Linked DNA regions of Homo sapiens: region 1 is linked to region 2. The links come from fine-mapping of genetic effects on gene expression. A gene starts in region 2. The other region holds a variant in brackets. All regions are shown on one strand. Distances are between the middles of the regions.

Region 1 (2,920 bases), 510 kb before region 2:
AGGCTCTGAAATTGTGGCAATAATCAATAGCTTACCAACCAAAAAGAGTCCTGGACCAGATGCATTCACAGCGAATTCTACCAGAGGTACAAGGAGGAACTGGTACCATTCCTTCTGAAACTATTCCAATCAACAGAAAAAGAGGGAATCCTCCCTAACTCATTTTATGAGGCCAGCATCATCCTGATACCAAAGCCAGGCAGAGACACAGGCAAAAAAGAGAATTTTAGACCAATATCCTTGATGAACATTGATGCAAAAATCCTCAATAAAATACTGGCAAACTGAATCCAGGAGCACATCAAAAAGCTTATCCACCATGATCAAGTGGGCTTCATCCCTGGGATGCAAGGCTGGTTCAACATACGCAAATCAATAAATGTAATCCAGCATATAAACAGAACCAGAGACAAAAACCACATGATTATCTCAATAGATGCAGAAAAGGCCTTTGACAAAATTCAACAACCCTTCATGCTAAAAACTCTCAAGAAATTAGGTAATGATGGGACGTATCTCAAAATAATAAGAGCTATCTATGACAAACCCACAGCCAATATCATACCGAATGGGCAAAAACTGGAAGCATTCCCTTTGAAAACTGGCACAAGACAGGGATGCCCTCTCTCACCACTCCTCTTCAACATAGTGTTGGAAGTTCTGGCCAGGGTAATCAGGCAGGAGAAGGAAATAAAGGGTATTCAATTAGGAAAAGAGGAAGTCAAATTGTCCCTGTTTGCAGATGACATGATTGTATCCTACAAAACCCCATTGTCTCAGCCCAAAATCTCCTTAAGCTGATAAGCAACTTCAGCAAAGTCTCAGGATACAAAATCAAGGTACCCAGCTTTTGAGAACTCAGGCCTCCCTCTGGCTGCCCAAAGGTTCCCACTTATTCATCTCACTTAGGCTCTCTCTTTCCTACCAGCAAACCACACTTCAAACCTTCCCCTCCTCTCTTCTAACCCTTCAAACTTGATGTTCCTTTTGCTCCAGCCACTTGGATCTTTGCTCTCTGTTTGCAATGGGTTGTCATGTGTATAGCAGTACTGCCTTTGAATGTTAACAGAGGTCCTTGCTTTATCCCCAAGAAGAGCTCATGAATGTACAGCTCTGTGGCAGGCGGGGAAATCATTTTGGAGAGTTTTGCCCCTTTAATCACATCCCCCACAGTGTTAGATTACCTAAAGGTACACGAGCACCACTTAAGGCACCAACAAATCAG[C/G]TATCCTCCACCTGATCTCTTACCAAGAGGAACACTTCTGAAAGATATTGGTGTTTGATAAATAAAGGAAAAAATCATTGATTTCATTATATGGGAGAAAATTAGAGAACTTTAAAACTTTCATTTACTTGTTTTAAGGTTTGATGTTTTTATGGTAGGGGGAGAGGAGGAATAACCTTAGTGCTTAGCACCTCTAAAGGTCTCATTGCTACCCCAAGACTGGGCAAAAGATGGTGAACTGTTAAAGCCGTTGCCACAGCCCTTGCCCCTTTGTAAGTTTAAGCACAGAGCTAGGATGCAGGAGACAAATGTAAGCTATAATGTGTGGGACCCAGTGCAGGCAAAAGAACAATATCTCTAGCCTTTTCAAAAAATTGACAAATAATAATTATATATATTTATGAGGTACAATGTGATGTTTTAATATATGTATACATCGTAGGATGACTAAAGGAAGCAAATTAACATATCTATTACCTCACATCTTATAATAGTTGCAAGTCCTTTAACTCCCCTATGATGGACTGGAATGCCTCTACTTTGGTTCTGGGCTACACACCAAAGCCTTAATGCCAAGCCTAAGTGATAAGTCCAACTGTGAAGGAGAAGATTCCTTTGGTGACACTAACTCTGACTCTTCCCCACAGGTGTCTGTTCCCACCAAAGCCTGCTATCCCTAAGTGCTACCCTGAAACTCATCAGCCAAACAAGTTGAAACTTCTCCTTTCTGTTTTTGAGTCCCTCCTTACCCCTTTCGCTCCTCAAAACCCATTAAAATAAGAACTAATTTGGTAAGTTAATTTCTAATAACGATTTCTTTTAGTAGTAAGTTAATTACTAAATAATAATTAGTCCTGGCAGGGAGGTTATTTACAGAAATTATACAACCCTGGAATTCAGATAAATTTGGATTCAAATCCTAGCATCACCAATACAAATTAAGCTATTTGACCTTGAGCAAAGTCACTAGCTGTACTGTGCCTCAGTTTCTCATCTATAAAGTGGGCATAACAATCATATCTATTCCATTTGAGAATGTTTTGAGAATTGTTTTGAGAATTAAATAATAGAACACATGAAAAGCACATAACATAGTGTTTAGTGGATACTCAATAAGTGTTAGTCTGTTTTCCCCTTAATGAGAAAACACGTGCATATTTTTACAGTGAAATTATAACCCAGTACTTTGGCTTTTAATTCAAACAAGGAAATTTTTATGGATCCTCTACTATGTGGCAGGTAATTTTCCAGATTCTGGAGATTAGCAGTGAGCAAAATAGACAAATTTCTACACTCTCATGGGGCTTGTATTCTAGTGGGGAGAGATAGACCATCAACAATAAACAGATATGCATATGTCAGATGTTGATAAGTGATATGAATAGAAATAAAGCAGTGACAAGGGGATAGGTTGAGTCGTGTAAGCATGGAGAGTTGTAATTTTTTTAAGACCTTATTTTTACGGCAGGTTTAGGTTCACAACAAAATTGAGAGGACAGTAGAAAAATAATCCATGTACCTCCTGCTCGCCCACATGCATAGCCTCCATTATCAAGATGCCCCATAAGAAAGATGTATTTGTTCCAATTGATGACCTTACATTGATACATCATTATGACCTCAAAATGCATGGTTTACATTAGGTCTCACTCTTAGTATTGTACATTCCATGGGTTTGGACAAATGTATGATGAC
Region 2 (2,920 bases):
TCAGCAATACACTTATAGAAAAAAATGCTTAAAATGCCAAGACTTGGGACCCAGAAGAGAGCACAATGAAAGGTAGCCTATATTAATATTAACATGAATATAAATATGCTAATCTTTTGAGGAAATAAGCCTTATCTGACTTCTACTAATGGTTGCCAATGTTCTGTATAACTTGATGTTAGGGACAAGGTACATATTCTAATCTTAGCTTTGGATTCATATCCCTAAAAGATCATGATTACAAGCAATGCAAACAAAAACATCAGGTAAAGAATCACACTGCCGTTCCTTTAAACACCAGGTTGAATATAACAGGAAGGCTGCTGTGGGTTCAGCTTGGGTCACTCCCCCCACATTGGGTCAATGACTGTTGCTCATAGACTGCAGGTCACTCATTGGCTGTACCACTGTACACTAGGGCATGAGCTGTTTCCGTGGACACTCCGTAATCCTACTGACACACACCTGGAAGTAAGGAAGGTTTCTGTTCAAAAAGAAATGAAAAAATTACTGTCAGTACAAAAAGAGAATGAATTACAATAGTGGTCTCAGAGTCGGGGAAGCTGGAAAACGAATGGATTCTTGAAAATTTTATTTAGCCATATATATACTGTAACTGGGCCTCGTTTGCTTATTTACATGGATTCATGATGAGAGAGATGCTGAACACATTTAGGAGGGTTACCTTGCTTCTTGTATCAGCATATTCACTTTCTCTGTTGCCATATCGCACATAATGAAGTTCTGGAAAATCCCACCATCCAGTCGTAGGAGAATGAGAGTGAAAAAGGTAAACATCAGTACATTGATAACATCATCATAAAGATAACCTAGAAAGATAACTAAGAAAAACGGCCATTTGGGAAACTGAGGACACGAAACACGATTACGGAAACACCCCCTACTTTTCCTTGGAGCATATTGCACTACAGATATATTGGAGTTGACAGTGTTTTGCACTGTGGGAAAAATGCTTGAAAAACCGCAGGAGGCCACACGGCACATGCCCCCCAAGCTGGAACGGTGCCACCCACACCAACCTCCGGTGGGGTCCCCCCCTTGGCGGGCCACTGGCCTATAGGGCCACGGGCGGTGGTTCTGAATAGAGCCTTTGGGTTTCCCAGGTGCTCAGGCGCTCCTGAGACAGCTCACTTGCTTTTGGTGTACCTGAGGGCGGCATTCGTGCCCTGGGCCTCGGCGAGCTTGCCCATCTTCCCCGGCAGCAGCAGTCGCACGGCCATCTGGATGTCCCGGGAGGTGATGGTCACGCGCTTGGTGTAATGGGCCAGCTGACCAGCCTCGGTGGCGATGCGGTCCAATATGTCATGGATCATAGAATCCATGACACTCACGGCCTCCTGGGAAAGGCTGAGGCCCTGGTGAACCTGCTTCAGCACCCGGGGGAAATAGGGGGTGAAGCTGTCCCCGAAGCTGTCCCCACGGCGGTTGGCGTGGCGCCTGCGGGAGCCTCGGCACCCTCGCCTCTTCTGCTTCTGGGCCTTCGTGGAGTTGGCCTCTTTGGGCTCCTGGATGCTCTGGCCTTCCTCCGAGGTTGTCTCAGAGGAAGCCTCAGCCATGGCGGAAGCAGCGGCCATTAGATAGCAAGAACAGAGAGTGACGGTTGGGGACCAGGGAAGTGGGGGGCACTTTGGTATGGTCGCATGGCTCTACGTCACATTCCAACTCGACATCTGATTGGATGAAGTGTCACCAAGGGCGCCTCTCAGCAATCTTCCCTCCATTGAAGGTGATCGGATGATCCTGTTGCTTGGAATCATGTCAGCCAATCACAGAGGGCGTCTGCCCGCCTAAGTGGCCGGGTTGCCTACCTCAGACAAAGGTACACAGAGTCTTGCTCTGTGGCACACCTGCAGTGCAGTGGTGCGGTCTCAGCTCACTGCAACCCCTGCCTCCTGGTTTCAAGTGATGCTCCCTCTTCAGCCTCCCAAGTAGCTGGGAGTAGAGGCGCGTACCACCACACCTGGCTAAGTTTTGTATTTTGTGTGTGTGTATGTGTGTGTGTGTGAGAAACATGGTTTCTTTATGTTTCCTCAGGCTGGTCCCAACTCCTGGACTCCAGTGATTCTCCTGCCTTGGCCTCCCAAGCTGCTGGGATTACAGGCATGAGCTATTGTGCCTGGCAGAGAAAACTTATTTCAAGAAAATAAAACATGATGTTGATACCCATTGAAGGATGCACACTACAAAAATCTGAGAACATTTATAAACTTGGTTACAAAACTCATACCTGAAATATTATAAATTAAATCACATTACACACACACACACACACACACACACACACACAAAGGGAAACAGTTTACTGCTGTAAATAACAATTTAGAAGCATCAAACGGGGCAAACATTACTAATGGAACAAGCAGACCTCATATAATCTTTTTTCAACATTACCTCTATTATACAATTCATTTAAATACATAACAAAAACCCACAGTGCAGAAATAGCTAAATCAAAAATTCAATGAACAGCACCCCTTTCAAGCTTCCGAGAAAATAAAGTAAGGACTCTAACTCATTCACATTTGTCTAATTCTATTGTTTCCCAGTCTACAATCTTTTTTAATGCAAAGCTTAATGTCCTGTGAGTATGCATCACTTACGATGGAAGTATCCAATGAGAGCACCCAAACCCCACTCTCCACTGGCTCAACTAATGAAGTGTCTTCAGCCCTGGGCCTGAGCCACTGGCTCAGAATGTGAGCAGGTGACCAGTCCTGAACCAATAAATGCCCTCCTAGCTGTTCAGCCTTGTAAATTGAGGAGAAAATTAGTTTGAGGTTTTTGTCCACTTTTTATTTCTTTGTTTGATTTTTCGTTTTATTGTAATTGTGGTGAATTAAAGATTTGAATCCAAAGCTGTGAGTAAGCATGTCTCCTACCTCTGGCATCATATTATGAA

The links. PIP is the estimated chance that this variant, and not a neighbour inherited with it, causes the effect. A credible set is the group of variants that fine-mapping cannot tell apart.
Region 1: its variant is the best candidate, but not a certain one, in a credible set for the expression of H2BW2 in nucleus accumbens (GTEx, PIP 0.69).

What each region holds. Positions count from the first base shown.
Region 1 is chrX:104,545,616-104,548,535 of GRCh38, reverse strand. No RefSeq gene overlaps it. Among named protein-coding and RNA genes, the nearest start is that of IL1RAPL2, 19 kb to the left of the region's middle. The variant C/G (reference allele first, on the strand shown) is at 1,226.
Region 2 is chrX:104,038,652-104,041,571 of GRCh38, reverse strand. H2BW2 (H2B.W histone 2) reads right to left here and starts at 1,616. Exons shown (of 4, transcript NM_001388464.1): 1 at 1,168-1,616; 2 at 686-744; 3 at 466-484. The coding sequence starts at 1,577. The coding sequence ends at 708.